Regions from separate parts of the Homo sapiens genome. Here regions 1 and 2 are each reported to be linked to region 3. The links are microRNA targets in miRTarBase. Many come from high-throughput screens and were not tested one by one. Region 3 holds a microRNA gene; each other region holds the end of a gene's coding sequence.
The links. The annotated mature microRNA hsa-miR-3190-3p reads UGUGGAAGGUAGACGGCCAGAGA and lies in region 3 at 3,693-3,715, shown strand. An mRNA with a match to its seed (bases 2 to 7 or 8) in the 3' UTR can be bound and repressed. Matches are read on the target gene's strand: a 7mer-m8 pairs with bases 2 to 8, a 7mer-A1 pairs with bases 2 to 7 and ends in A, and an 8mer does both.

Region 1: miRTarBase lists GOLPH3L as a target of hsa-miR-3190-3p. Seed matches in the 3' UTR shown: 7mer-m8 at 1,034-1,040 and 7mer-m8 at 1,887-1,893.
Region 2: miRTarBase lists INTU as a target of hsa-miR-3190-3p. Seed matches in the 3' UTR shown: 8mer at 1,915-1,922.

What each region holds. Positions count from the first base shown.
Region 1 is chr1:150,644,159-150,649,158 of GRCh38, reverse strand. It overlaps GOLPH3L (golgi phosphoprotein 3 like), which reads left to right. Exons shown (of 5, transcript NM_018178.6): 5 at 411-2,929. The coding sequence ends at 838. Among named protein-coding and RNA genes, the nearest start is that of ENSA, 17 kb to the right of the region's middle. RefSeq lists an enhancer at 1,793-2,294.
Region 2 is chr4:127,715,655-127,720,654 of GRCh38, forward strand. INTU (inturned planar cell polarity protein) reads left to right here. Exons shown (of 16, transcript NM_015693.4): 16 at 671-5,000. The coding sequence ends at 782. Among named protein-coding and RNA genes, the nearest start is that of SLC25A31, 12 kb to the right of the region's middle.
Region 3 is chr19:47,223,296-47,228,295 of GRCh38, forward strand. MIR3190 (microRNA 3190) reads left to right here and starts at 3,647; the gene lies at 3,647-3,726. It overlaps BBC3 (BCL2 binding component 3), which reads right to left. Exons shown (of 4, transcript NM_014417.5): 2 at 4,863-5,000; 3 at 3,269-3,459. MIR3191 (microRNA 3191) reads right to left here and starts at 3,724; the gene lies at 3,649-3,724. RefSeq lists enhancers at 2,079-2,578, 3,787-4,729 and silencers at 2,652-3,211, 2,706-2,872, 3,242-3,541, 4,762-5,000.

The DNA of each region.
Region 1 (5,000 bases), not on the chromosome of region 3:
GGGATAGAGCTTCTGCTCTACAAATAGGGTAGGGAACCTCAGTCCTCTTAGCTTCACCAGCAAATAGAACTTCCACAATATAGAGTAGAAATCATCTGGGAGAGACTGGTGTCCTAAATAGAATTTGAAAAATACATAAATAATTACAGTGTCACAGAGGTCACATAAGAACAGAAATAAAGTCTATAAGCTCTAGCAATATGGAAGTCCTTGGTGACATTTTTTGAAGCTGGTTTAATGTGAAATGTGGTTGGAGTCAAAGCCAGATTATAAAGGACTAAGGATTAAATGAATTGAGGAATGAAGATTATGCTTTTAAACATTTTAGCCATTCAAGTTTCCAAACAACTACATGTTTCATTTTGCTTTTCTCTTTCAGTTCATTATGTCCTATTTCTTTTTTCTCATAGGTGAGACCTGGAACCCCTTCAAATTACAGTACCAGCTGAGAAATGTACGAGAGCGCATCGCAAAGAACCTAGTAGAGAAAGGTATTCTAACCACTGAGAAGCAGAATTTCCTGCTATTTGACATGACTACTCATCCAGTGACCAATACAACAGAGAAACAGCGACTAGTGAAAAAACTTCAAGATAGTGTACTAGAGCGGTGGGTAAATGACCCTCAGCGTATGGACAAGCGAACACTAGCACTCCTGGTGCTAGCCCACTCCTCTGATGTGCTAGAGAATGTCTTCTCCTCTCTGACAGATGACAAGTATGATGTGGCAATGAATCGAGCCAAGGACTTAGTAGAACTGGACCCTGAAGTGGAAGGGACAAAGCCTAGTGCCACAGAAATGATCTGGGCTGTGCTGGCAGCCTTCAATAAATCTTAAAGCCGGCAGGTGGATTTCTCCTTTTCCCCTGCTGGCTGGTGACTGTCAGAGACCCCATCACTGAGTTTTGTGTGATGAGATGTTTTCATCATTTTTGTTTCCTTTTCTTGAATCAGACTTGTGATTTGGGGAGAGCAACTTCAGGGCTTCTCCATAGACCTTGACCATTATAAGCAGACCTTATTTCTCCCTACACTTCCACTCCATAGGTAAATAAACTGGGTGAAGCCACACACACCCAATGAACATTTTCTCCCATTTGGTGGTTTAGTTTCACCCAGTGTGCTTTTGGATAAGCAGAAATATCTAAATGGGATTTTGAGTTCTCCAGCTATAGAATGTGAATGAGATAAAAAGTGAACTATCTATTATATTTTTCTGAGTTTGTTTTCTATCATAAATACATGTTTTCACAGCCTTTGTCTCTCAGACTCTGCTAAATAATGTAGCTTATTGAAATAACTGTCGCTGAATAAGGAGCAATGAGAAACAAAACTAATTTTTGGAGCAGATGGTCTCTGGAATTGCATATCCTGCTAGTGATTTTCTCATCTTTCCTTTTCTAACCTAATGAGAATGTCCCAGATTCAATTACCTGGATGTCAAAGTCCTAGAGCCAGAAATATATTCTCTCATCCCTCTTAGCATTCTCTTGCTCCCTCATTCACTAGGGCAAATGTCTAAATGAAGAAAAGTCTCTCTCAACACCTCGTTCATGCAATCAGCATTAGAATTTGTAAGGAAGGAAGGGGGGTGGCATGAAAATTTCCATTCTTGGGGTATATGACTGTCCTGTTTCCCCCAGGCCACTTTTTTTTTTTTTTTCTTTTGAGACAGGGTCTTGCTCTTGCCCAGGCAGGAGTACAGTAGTGCAATCACAGCTGACTGCAGCCTTGACCTCCAGGGCTCAAGGATCCTCCTGCCTCAGTCTCCCAACTAAGTGGGACTACAGGCACGTGCCACCATACTCAGCTTTTTTTTGTTTGTTTTAGACAAGAGTCTCGCTTTGTTGCCCAGGCTGGTCTTGAATTCCTGGGCTCAAGCAATTCTTCCACCTCAGCCTCCCAAAGTGCTGAGATTACTGGCTTGAGCCACTGCACCCACCCCTCCAGACTACTTTAAATGTCTCTGCTCTGACTGAATTGAAGGAATTGTAAGTTTCAGTTGCTGAATATATCAGTATATCTGAACTCCAGATCTTTTTATTTCCTATTTTTGGCTTCCTACATAAATTAATAAAGTCTGTCTATATTTAAGGTTTCTGGGAGTAGTTTTGTCTATATTTAATCCATAGATGTGCTCCTAGTCATCAGTCTTATTTCAGTAAAACCATCTTTCTGGCCAAATCTCTAACACGTTTTTTACTTCAGTAGTGAGGGCAATGAGAAGCTTTATTAAGAAAGATCCTATTTAAAGGGCTAATTTGGTATTGAAAGCATGCTGATATAAAGTCCAGTATTTGAGGATATAAAGAGGATGTGCACTGAGCTGTGCTGATGTTCAGCATTTATTATACTTTAATGGGATAGTGCTTCTTGACCATTATAGAACAACAAACTGTCAAAGGGTTAATACAGATGACCCAGACCTGACATTAAATCCTCTTGATTAGAAATAATTAAATGAATTATTTATTCATTTCTCTCCTCTGCCAAATCTACTTAGCCCCACAAAAATGCCCCAGCTCAGTTAACATTTTTTTGTTTTTCACTTTAGGTATCTCTTAGGCAAATAGAGATATAAATTGTAATAGGAAACAGTCTCTAAATGTGAGGCTGAATACAGCTTCAGTCTGGCTCTCTAATAGGACAAAAGCCAGTCCATGTGTTGTCTCTAACTGATTTAGCTTTTTCTTTTCTTTGAACAATTCGGCATGAATTGAAACCAGGTTTTCCTGTGGAAAGTTATAGCTTGATTGGGAGATAGAAGTTGAATTGAGTTCTTTCTTGCAACTCTTAGTGTTTATTTTTATATCTCAGTAAGACGAGGATACCTTCAGTTTGAATCTGCATAATGTTCACTGCCAAACTCCTTCTCATTTAATGCTTATGGCCTTCACATTTCTGTATAATAAAGATCAATTATCAGCTCTCTGGTCTCTCTGTGCACAATTTTATAATTTAAATTGTTTTAATTGGAACTAAGGACTTTCTACACAAGGCTATTAATGCCTCCCCCTTTACACTAGCATACCAGCTTGTTTTATCCTATGTAGAAAATGAGGGATACAAAAACAATTGTAACATACATAGGCTGAGGGGCAGGACATGTCAAAAGCTGACCACATGAACACCAGCTAATACTATAAAGCCTAAATAGTGTCTCCATCTCAATCAAAATAAATTAGCCAATTATACCATTATTACCATGAAGAGAATGAATATGATCTGTTCTACTAATATCTACTTGCAAATGACACCTGAATTTAGGAGTTGAAAATCTTAAGTTCCAAATGTAGGTGACATGCCTGACTATAACAGAGTTAACATGTAAAAATGTAAGTGTGCTTATAATTGGCTTATTGTTCTCCCTTTCTTTATCTATAGCACAAGGGACAATAATACATTTGTTTATTAGGATTGTTTATACTTTTCTAATATTTTTATTTAAGACAAAGTACTATTTCCATAAGTCATGCTTTATACAATGTTTCTCAAAGTATATTGCAAAGACCATTGCACCAAAATGTGTGTGTGAGATAGGAGGGTAGCTTGCTAAAATGCAGATCCTAGTAAATCAGTCTCTGGAGTTAGGAGGAAGCTGCATTTTAAAGAAATTCTCAGCCAGGCGCGATGGCTCATGCCTGTAATCCCAGCACTTTGGGAGGCCGAGGCGGGCGGATCATCTGAGGTCAGGAGTTCAAGACCAGCCTGGCCAACATGGTGAAACCCCATCTCTACTAAAAATACAAAATTAGCTGGCCATAGTGGCGCACTCCTGTAATCCCAGCTACTCAGGAGGCTGAGGCAGGAGAATTGCTTGAATCTGGGAGGCGGAGGTTGCAGTGAGCCAAGATTGCGCCTCTACACTCCAGCCTGGGCGATAGAGCGAGACTCCGTCTCAAAAAAAAAGAAACTCTAAAAGCTTGCATGTTAAAATTGGAGAACGCCACCCTATATCTTATTGTCTATAATTCATTCATCAAAAAAATATTGAGTACTTACAAATTGATGGGCACTTGCTAGGCACTGACAATAAAACATTGCATAGGGCACCATTCTAGCTCCCAAGAATGCACATTTATGTGGGCAAATAATATAATTTGTGACAAATGCTCAAATAGAAGTATAAACATAATATTTGGAAGCACAAATAAATAGTATTCTCCCTGGGAATGTTAGGGAAGACTTTGAGGTGTTGTATTTATTATGGTTATCATATATTGAGCACTTTTGTTGTGAGGTAGGTACTATGCTAACTGCTTTGTATCTTGTCTCATTTATTACAACACTAAAAAAAAAAAAAAACTCTACAGTGTTCTTTTAAAGAAAACTCCGGTGGCTGGGTGTGGTGGCTCATGCCTGTATTCCCAGCACTTTGGGAGGCCAAGGCGGCTGGATCACCTGAGGTCAAGAGTTCGAGACCAGCCTGGCCAACATGGTGAAATCCCATCTCTATTAAAAATACAAAAATTAGCCCGGCATGGTGGCACATGCCTGTAGTCCCAGCTACTCGGGAGGCTGAAGCAGGAGAATCGCTGGAACCCGGGAGGTGGAGGCTGTAGTGAGTCAAGATCGTGTCACTGTACTCCAGCCTGGGTGACAGAGCAAGACTGTGTCTCAAAAAAAAAAAAAAGAAAACTCAGGTAATGAGGCTTGCCTGAGGACCTAGTGCAGAGCTTCAGTTCAAACACCTACTTTTTAATCACTACCCTTTCTTGCCTTCATTTGAACTAAATCTCAAAGGATCGGCTGGGCCACGGTGGCTTATGCCTGTAGTCCCAGCACTTTAGGAGGCCAAGGTGGGAGGATCACTGGAGTCCAGGAATTCAAGACCAGCCTGGGCCATAGCAAGACCTTGTCTCTATTTTTAAAAAAATGTTTAAAAAGTCTCAAAGGATCTTTTCAGGCTAAGAGGGAAGAGCCAAGGCTACCCTATGCAGAGGAAATAATATGTACAAGATAATTGGTGATGTGCTAGAATTTCATGAATGCATGTCGTT
Region 2 (5,000 bases), not on the chromosome of region 3:
ACTAGAAATGAGAAGACCAGTTAGGCACACATGTAGCTGTTCAGTCGAGTGTTAACTACGTTCATGACAATTGGAATAGAAAGAATCAAAAGATGTTGAATTTTGATAATGCAGATTTATGCAGAAGAGAAATTTAAGAAAATCAGGCAGAACTATCTCCAGTTTAAATAGATCAATTTGTATACATTAGTATTGATTAAATGGATTTCAATTTTAACTCTTTAAGAAAACCAAACAAAATTTCAATGTTAATTCCAATTCAGTTCTATTTGCCAAAAAAAGCTACCATATATTTAATGTTTTAATAAAAATTAAACATTAGAAAGTAAAGAGCAATAAAATACTTAATAACTATTGTGCCTATAATGCTAGTGCTATTGCCTTTATTATAATAACTAGATTTGCTATTTAAAAACTGAGTGGTATCATAATACATATTGATAAAATAGGATTATTACACTCTAGAGCAATAAAAACTAATTGACCTAAGGCATATATTATTTATTTAGAAATAAATCTAGCTGCTTTCTCCCTAGTATAGATTTAGATTCATGGATTTTAAATTTACTACTGATGCTTTCAGAAACAAAAATTAAATTAATTGGATGGTTAGAGTTTTTGTTGTTTGTTGTTTTAATTTCTGAAATGAGTGTGTTCTTTTCTTCTGCAGGAGACTTTTTCTTCATCCAAAACCTCAAGAACTTTATGTCTGTTTTCATGACTCAGTCACAGAAATTGCCATTGAAATAGCTTTTAAATTGTTCTTTGGGTTAACCTTGTAGCTGTGCTTTCTTGATGCGTAGAAACACGTGCATGGAGGATCAAACACTGTCAGAATTGCTGAAATCAATACACAAAGAGATAAAGTTTAGCTTCTTTTTACTATTCAATATTGAACATAATATTGTTAAATATTGAGATGAAATGCTGTTGGATTTGATACATTAAATCTTAATGTAATATTGTAAGACTTTTGAGAATATACTTGATTAAAATGTGAAAGAAGGGATTGTTAACTTATTGCTATTTTGGTATATAATGTTAATTTATTGACTAGTTTGAAATAATGTGAAGTGTTTTTTATATCAGATTAATATAGGAAATGTTTATTCTTGAAAAATACTCAATTTGTTGTTGTTTATTTTTCTCAAAATTCATACTGATATCTGATGAAATGATTATGAAATTGGGAGCAGGTGACCAGGTGCTGTAACTAAGTAGTGCTATGACCATGAGCAAGTTTTTGTACCTCTCTAAGCTCAGAGTTTTCATGTAAAATGAGATGATTGCATTGAGGTTTCAAAAATACCTCTTAAGTAAAATGTGCTTTTATTTTATTTTAGTTTTAGTTTTAGTTCTGGGGTACATGTGCAGGATGTGCAGGTTCGTTACATAGGTAAACATGTGCCATGGCGGTTTGCTCCACCTATCAACCCATCACCTAGGTATTAAGCCTAGCATGCATTAGCTATTTTTCCTAATACTCTCCCTACCCCCACAACAGGCCCTGGTGTGCATTGTTCCCCTCCCTTTGTCCATGTGTTCTCATGGTCAGCTCCCACTTATAAGTGAGAACCTACAGTGTTTGGTTTTCTGTTCCTGCATTAGTTTGCTGAGGATAATGGCTTCCAGCTTCATCCATGTCCCTGCAGAGGACATGATCTCATACCTTTTTGTGGCTGCATAGTATTCCATGGTGTATGTGTACCACATTTTCTTTATCCAGTCTATTGCTGATGGGCATTTGGGTTGATTCCATGTCTTTGCTATTGTAAATAGTGCTTCAATGAACATATGTGTGCATATATATTTGTAATTGAATGATTTATATTACTTTGAGTATAAACCCAGTAATGGGATTGCTGGGTCAAATGGCATTTCTGGTTCTAGATCTTTGAAGAATCACCACACTGTCTTCCACAATGGTTGAACTAATTCACATTCCCACCAACAGTGTAAAAGCGTTCCTATTTCCTCACAGCCTCGCCAGCATCTGTTATTTCTTGACTTTTTAATAATAGCCACTCTGACTGGTGTGAGATGATATCTCATTGTGGTTTTGATTTGCATTTCTCTAACAATCAGTGATATTGAGCTTTTTTTTCATATGTTTGTTGGCTGCATGAATGTCTTCTTTTGAGAAGTGTCTGTTCATGTCCTTTGCCCAGTTTTTAATGCGGTTCTATTTTTTCTTGTAACTTGGTTTGAGTTCCTTGTAGATCCTGGATATCAGATCATTGTTGGATGAATAGATTGCCAAAATTTTCTCCCACTCTGTAGGTTGCCTGTTCACTCTGATGATAGTTTCTTTTGCTGTGCAGAAGGTCTTTAATTTAACTAGATCCCATTTGTCAAGTTTTGCTTTTGTTGCAGTTGCTTTTGTGATTTCATCATGAAATCTTTGCCCATGCTCATGTCTTAAATGGTATTGCCTAGATTTTCTTCTAGGGATTTTATAGTTTTGGGCTTTACATTTAAGCCTTTATTCTATCTTAATTTTTTGTATAAGGTATGAGGAATGGGTCCAGTTTCTATTTTCTGCATATGGATAGCTAGTTCTCCCAGCACCATTTATTAAATAAGGAATCCTTTCCCCATTGCTTGTTTTTCTCAGGTTTGTTGAAGATCAGATGGTTGTAGATGTGCAATCTTATTTCTGAGTTCTCTATTCTATTCCATTGGTCTATGTGTCAGTTTTTGTACCAGTACCATGATGTTTTGGTTATTGTACCCTTACAGTACAGTTTGAAGTTTGGTAGTGTGATGCCTCCAGCTTTGATCTTTTGGCTTAGGATTGCCTTGGCTATACAGGCTCTTTTTTTGGTTCCATATAAATTTTAAAATAGTTTTTTCTAATTCTATGAAGAATATCAATGGTAGTTTAATGGGAATAACATTGACTCTATAAATTACTTTGGGCAGTATGGCTATTTTCATGATATTGATTCTTACTGTCTGTGAGCATGGAATATTTTTCCATTTGTTTGTGTCCTCTCTGGTTTCCTTGAGCCGTGGTTTGTAGTTCTCCTTGAAGAGGTCCTTCACTTCCCTTGTTAGCTGTATTCCTAGGTATTTTATTCTCTTTGAAGCAATTGTGAGTAGGAGTTCATTCATGATTTGGATCTCTGCTTGCCTGTTGTTGGTGTATAGGAATGCTGGTGACTTCTGCACAATGATTTTGTATCTTGAGACTTTGCTGAAGTTGCTTATCAGCTTAAGAAGCTTTTGGGCTGAGACAATGGGGTTTTCTAGATATAGGATAATGTCCTCTGCAAACAAAGACATTTTGACTTCCTCTCTTCTTCTTTGAATACCCTTTATTTCTTTCTCTTGCCTGATTGCCCTGGCCAGGACTTCCAATACTATGTTGAATAGTGGTGAGAGAGGTCATCCTTGTCTTGTGCTGGTTTTCAAGGGGAGTGCTTCCAGCTTTTGCCCATTCGGTATGATATTGGCTGTGAGTCTGTCATAAATGGCTCTTATTATTTTGAAGTATGTTCCTTCAATACCTAGTTTATTGAGAGTTTTTAACATGAAAGGATGTTGAATTTTATTGAAGGTGTTTTCTGCATCTATTGAGTTAATCATGTGGTCTTTGTCTTTAGTTCTGTTTGTGTGATGAATTAAGTTTATTGATTTGCATATGTTGAACCAGCCTCACATCCCGGGAATGAAGCCAACTTGATCGTGGTGGATAAGCTTTTTGATGTGCTGCTGGATTCAGTTTGCCAGTGTTTTATTGAGAATTTTTACATTGATGTTCATCAGGGATATTGGTCTGAAGTTTTCTTTTTTTGTTGTATCTCTGCCAGGTTTTGATATCAGGATGATGCTGGCCTTATAGAATGAGTTAGGGAGGAGTCTCTCCTTTTCATTTGTTTGGAATAGTTTCAGAAGAAGTGGTATCAGCTTCTTTTTGTATTTCTGGCAGAATTCAGCTGTAGATCCATCTGGTCCTGGGCTTTTTTTGGTTGGTAGCCTATTAATTACTGCCTCAATTTCAGAACTTGTTATTGGTCTATTCAGTGATTCAACTTCTTCCTGGTTCAGTCTTGGGAGGGTGTATGTGTCCAGGAATTTATCCATTTCTTCTAGATTTTCGAGTTTATTTGCACCGAGCTGTTATAGTATTGTCTGATGGTTGTTTATATTTCCATGGGATCAGTGGTAATATCCCCTTTATCATTTTTTATTGTGTCTATTTGGTTCTTCTCTCTTTTCTTCTTTATTAGTCTAGCTAATAGTCTATTTTGTTAATATTTTCAAAAAAAAGCAGCCCCTGGATTCATTTATTTTTTGAAGGGTTTTTCATGTCTCTAGCTCCTTCATTTCCACTCTGATTTTGGTTACTTTTTGTCTTCTGCTGGCTTTTGGGTTTGTTTGCTCTTGGTTCACTAGTTCTTTTAGTTGTGATACTAGGGTGTCGATTTGAGATCTTTCTAGCTTTTTGATGTGGGCATTTAGTGCTATAAATTTCCCTCTTAACACTGCTTTAGCTATGCCCCAGAGATTCTGGTACATTGTCTCTTTGTTTTCATTGGTTTCAAAGAACTTCTTGATTTCTCTCTTAATTTCATTATTTACCCAGGAGTCATTCAGGAGCAGGTTGTTCAATTTCCACGTAGTTTTGTGGTTTTGAGTGACTTTCTTACTCTTGAGTTCCAATTTGATTGCGCTGTGATCTGAGAGACTGTTTGTTATTACTTCAGTTCTTTAGCATTTGCTGAGGAGTGCTTTACTTCTAATTGTGTGATCAATTTTAGAGTAAGTACCATGTGGCACTGAGAAGAATATATATTCTGTTGTTTGGGGGTGGAAAGATGTCTAGATATTTATCAGGTCCCACTTGATCCAGAGCTGAGGTCAAGTCCTGAATAACTTTGTTAATTTTCTGTCTCGATGATCTAATATTGACAGTGGGGTGTTAAAGTCTCCCACTATTATTGTGTGGAAATCTAAGTCTCTTTTTGGGTCTCTAAGAACTTGTTTTATGAATCTGA
Region 3 (5,000 bases):
GTGGCTCACGCCTGTAATCCCAGCACTTTGGGAGGCCAAGGCAGGTGGATCACCTGAGGTCAGGAGTTCAAGACCAGCCTGGCCACCATGGGGAAACCCCGTCTCTACTAAAACAACAAAAATTAGCTGGGCCTGGTGGCACACACCTGTATTCCCAGCTACTAGGGAGGCCAAGGCAGGAGAATCGCTTGAACCCGGGAGGCGGAGGTTGCAGTGAGCCGAGATTGCACCACTGCACTCCAGCCTGGGCAACAGAGCAAGACTCCGTGTCAAAAAAAAAATTTTTTTTAAGTGTACAGAGAGCTGCAATCCTCTGCCACTCCCTGTAGCTCCACAGGCAGGCTCTGTGCTAAGTGGGGACCACCTAACCTCCTTCCCTTCAGGTGCAGGGGAAGGAGAAACTCACTTTACAGAAGGTTAAATGATCCTCATCGTCCTCATGCTACCTGGTAGTGAGTCGCCTGGTACCAGCCCAGCCTCCTCAACACTCCCTAGCAACTCTTGGGGCCAGGAGATGGTGGCAAAGGGGGCACATCGGATTGGTGTAAGTTACAAAACCCACCACTGTCACACTGCTGTGGGTGCCACCTGGTGAGAAAGCTAGCAATCACCTAGTAAGGTGGATGGTGGGCAGACCACCCAGGTACCTACTCTAGAAACACAAGAGCGCACCCGGAAATATGCATGATTGGGAGAGGAAAAAAGGCAATAAATAATGGCCGGGCGCAGTGGCTTACACCTGTAATCCCAGCACTTTGGGAGGCCGAGGTGGGTGGATCACCTGAGGTCGGGAATTCAAGATCAGCCTGGTCAACATAGTGAAACCCCGTCTCTACTAAAAATACAAAAATTAGCTGGGCATGGTGGCAGGCATCTGTAATCTCAGCTACTTGGGAGGCTGAGGCAGGAGAATCACTTGAACCCGGGAGGTGAAGGTTGCAATGGGCCGAGATTGCACCATTGCACTCCAACCTGGGCAACAAGAGCGAAACTCTGTCTCAAAAAATAAATAAATAAAATAAAATCTGAAATACATTTAAAAATAGTCTGGGTGAGGTAGCTCAGACCCATAATTCCAGCAATTTGGGAGGCCAAGGCAGGAGGATCACTTGAGGCCAGGAGTTTGAGACCAGCCTGGGTAACACAGAAAGACCTGATCTCTACAAAAAAATAAAATAAAAATTAGCCAGGCATGGTGGATCTGCCTGTGGTCCCAGCTACTTGGGAGGCTGAGGCGGGAGGATCCCTTAAACCCAGGAGTTGGAGGCTGCAGGGAGCTGTGATTGAACCACGGCACTCCAGCCTGGGAGACAGTGAGACCCTGTCTCTAAACATAAAATAAAAATACATATCTATCCTAAATATCCATCAATGAGAAAATGAATAAGGATACTATGTTTATCCAACAGAATACTATGTAGCAGTGAAAATGACTTTTTTTTTTTTTTTTTTTGAGACAGAGTTTCATTCTGTCCTCCAGGCTGGAGTGCAGTGGCATGATCTCCTGATCTCGGCTCACTGCAACCTCCACCTCCTGGGTTCAAGAGATTCTCCTGCCTCAGTCTCCCAAGTAGCTGGGATTACTGGCGTGTGCCACCATGCTCAGCTACTTTTTGTTTCTTTTTTTTTTTTTGAGACAGATTTTCGCTGTTGTTGCCCAGGCTGGAGTGCAATGGCACGATCTCGGCTCACCGCAACCTCTGCCTCCCGGTTTCAAGCAATTATCCTGCCTCAGCCTCCCGAGTAGCTGAGATTACAGGCATGTGCCACCACGCCTGGCTAATTTTGTATTTTTAGTAGAGACGGGGTTTGTTCATGTTGGTCAGGCTTGTCTCGAACTCCCGACCTCAGGTGATCCGCCCTCCTCAGCCTCCCAAAGTGCTGGGATTACAGGCATGAGCCACCACGCCCGGCCTTAATTTTTGTATTTTTAGTAGAGACGAGGTTTCACCATGTTGGCCAGACTGGTCTCAAACTCCCAACCTCAAGTGAGCCACTTGCCTCCGCCTCCCAAAGGGCTGGGATTACAGGCGTGGGCCACTGCACCAGGCCGAAAATGGCTGTATTTGTTGTTTCTTTTTTGAGATGGTCTTGCTCTGTCCCCCAGGCTGGAGTTCAGTGACCCTTCATGGCTCAGTGCAGCCTCGACTTCCTTGGCTCAAGGGACCCTTTCACCTCAGCCTCCCAAGTAGCTGAGACTACAGGCCCGCGCCACCACACCCGGCTAATTTTTGTATTTTTTGTAGCAACGGGGATCTCATTATGTGGCCCAGGCTGGTCTGGAACTCCTGGGCTCAAGCGTCCTTCTATCTCCGCCTCCCAAAGTGCTGGGATTACAGGAGTGAGCCACCGTGCCTGGCTGAACATAGATGAATGGAAGCTCTTTTGCCCATATGGTGAATCTGAAGCCTAATATTGAGGGAAAAAGGAATTCTGGGGAGAAACAAAAACTATGTCATATACGCTAAGCTAAGAATGCTCCATGATTCTAAGCCCTGGTTCTGGCCTGGTAAATACGGAGTAAAAGCAACACCTGCAGGGGTTGAGAGAGGCCAACTCGAGAGATTTCCTTTGGATGCAAGGAGGGGGAAGGGATGGGGAGAGTAAGGAGCTTCACCACATGCGTTTCTGCGGTTTTGTTTGGTTTCTTAATAAGCAAGCAATGCGGGTGTAATGTTCAAACTGAACAGAGCTGCCTGGTGGGCGCATGATGTTTGTGATTTCCCATTCTCTGCTGTGGGCTTCGAATATTTGTTTTAAAAAATCGAGGCCGTGCCAGGGGCTGGGGGGCGGGGCCTCCCGCGGGGCGGGGCTGCGAGCCCACCCCTGCGGTCCCCGGCCCGCCCCGGCGCCCGGGAAACTGTGTGGCGCTGCGGGCCGCGCGAGAGGGACGGCAGGGGGCGGGCGCGGCGCGGCTGCTGACTCACCGGCTATAAATAGCCCGGGATATATGAGCCGCGCCGCCCAGCGCCGCCCTCAGTCCCCGCGGCCGCGGGCCACGGGCGCGCAGCTCCACTCCTCGGCGGCCTAGTCCCTGGCCCTGGCCCTGGCCCTGGCTCGGGCTCCGGCTATGCCAGCCGCGGCGCGGAGTCCTTGGGCGGCTCTGCGGGCGCGCGATTCCCCCCCACCCACTTACCCCCCACCTGCCTGTCCGCGGAGCGACCCAGCCGCGCAGGGCAGCAGCTGCCGCACATCTGGCGGGGGCCGCCTGCCGCCCCCTCCTCCGGCGGAAGTCCCACCTGCCGTCTACCCCACCCCCAGCACTCACCCGCCGCTCGTACTGTGCGTTGAGGTCGTCCGCCATCCGCCGCAGCTGGGCCCCGATCTCCCGGGCCCACTGTTCCTCCTCCCCGCGGACTCCCGGGGCCGCCTGGGTGGGACCGCCCGCCAGAGCCCCCGGGGCGCTGGGCACGGGCGACTCCAGGTGCTGCTCCGCCAGCGAGAGCGAGGGCTGAGGACCTTGGAGAGGCAGAGGGGCGCGGTCAGCACCCACCACCCCTCCAGGCCTCGAGGTGTCTCGGCCTGCTCCCCTCTTTCCCAGCCACTGCTCCCCGCCTCATTTCTAGTGATCCCATCGCTAGTGAGTCAATTTCTCAGCTTCTCCTCCACAGGCACCAGAAAGCAAGAAGTACCTGGGGACGCCGCTCTGGGGTCACCTGTCTGGCCAGCTACGTCCCCACGGCCCTTGTCAGTGTGGAAGGTAGACGGCCAGAGAGGTGACCCCGGGGGTGGTCAGGCTTAACGACCTCTATTTTCCAAAGGGGCCACATTTTGCCTTTTCCATGTGACAGGCAGGGAAACTGAGGCCCGCCCTTAGGGAGTATCCCAAGGTCACACAGGGATACAGTGACTGACCCCACCCAGATCACAAGCCTCAGGTCTCCTGCCCTCTCGTGTCCAACCACAGGGAAGCCACACCTCCGGATGTGGCAGAGGCCTAGAGACCAGAAGGCCAGAGACTGTGGCAGCTTCAGAGCGCGGGCCTGGGGGGCTGGGACGCGGGAGATGCCTTCCTGCCCCCCCCCCCCCCCCACTTCTGAGCGCCCTAGGAGGCTCCTGCCCTCCCGTCCCACCAGGTCCTGGCCTGAGGGTTCCCTAAGGCCTACAGCCAGGGCCTCAGTTTCCACATCTGTGACCTTGGCCTTGAAATCGGTGTCCCCTTCCAGGGCTTCCAGGAACTGAGTTAGGGAAGTTTTCTCTTTCCTCGCTCCCCTTGGGCTGCCGGGACAAGATGGGGGATGGGAAACCAGGACACACTTTCCCTAGAGCGCCTGCCGGCAGGGATGGGGCTCCACGGGCACCACAGGGTTAACAGCCCATCAGGCAGGGGACCTTTAACCCTTCCCTCCCCAAGACTCCCCCACCTCCCCGAGGGGACTTCCCAACACAATGGCCCCTCCCCCTCTCCTTCCTCCGCCGGGACTGCTGAGGACAGCCCCTGGCCAAAGAGATGCAAATAAAAGCAAAAGGCCTCTCGACCCCTCCCCAGAGGCCAGAGTTGACAGTCCTCCCGCTCGGCCCACTCTCCCTGCAACAGGAATCCTCCAGGGGGTCTAGAGGACCCAGACTGGGGGAGGGGAGCTGGGATGCAGCTGTTGCCCCAGGCCCGGAAGAGACAGTGGGCTGCAATTCGGGGACTGCAGTCAGATTCCAGGAGGGACTTCCCACTTGACCTCCCCCTCCACCCCCAGCCTCCGTCTTCCTGCTTCTTGCAACACAAAGACCACATTGGCCACACCCTCCCAGTGGCCCGGCTGGGCCCGCCACCTCCCCCCGTCCTCTCCCACTTCTCCAGTTCCTCCGAGTCTCCAGCCCTCTCTCTTCCCGGCTCCTATCACCCCGGGGGCGGGGCGGGCACTCACCGTCCGGGCGCGGGCCTCGGGGCCGGCTGCGGGGACCCCCAGGCCAGCGGGAACCCCCCAGGGCGGCGGTGACGGCGGGTGGGGCGGTGGGGGCGCAGAGGTAGGCAGCGGGCAGCAGGGTGGGGGCGGCGGGGGCGG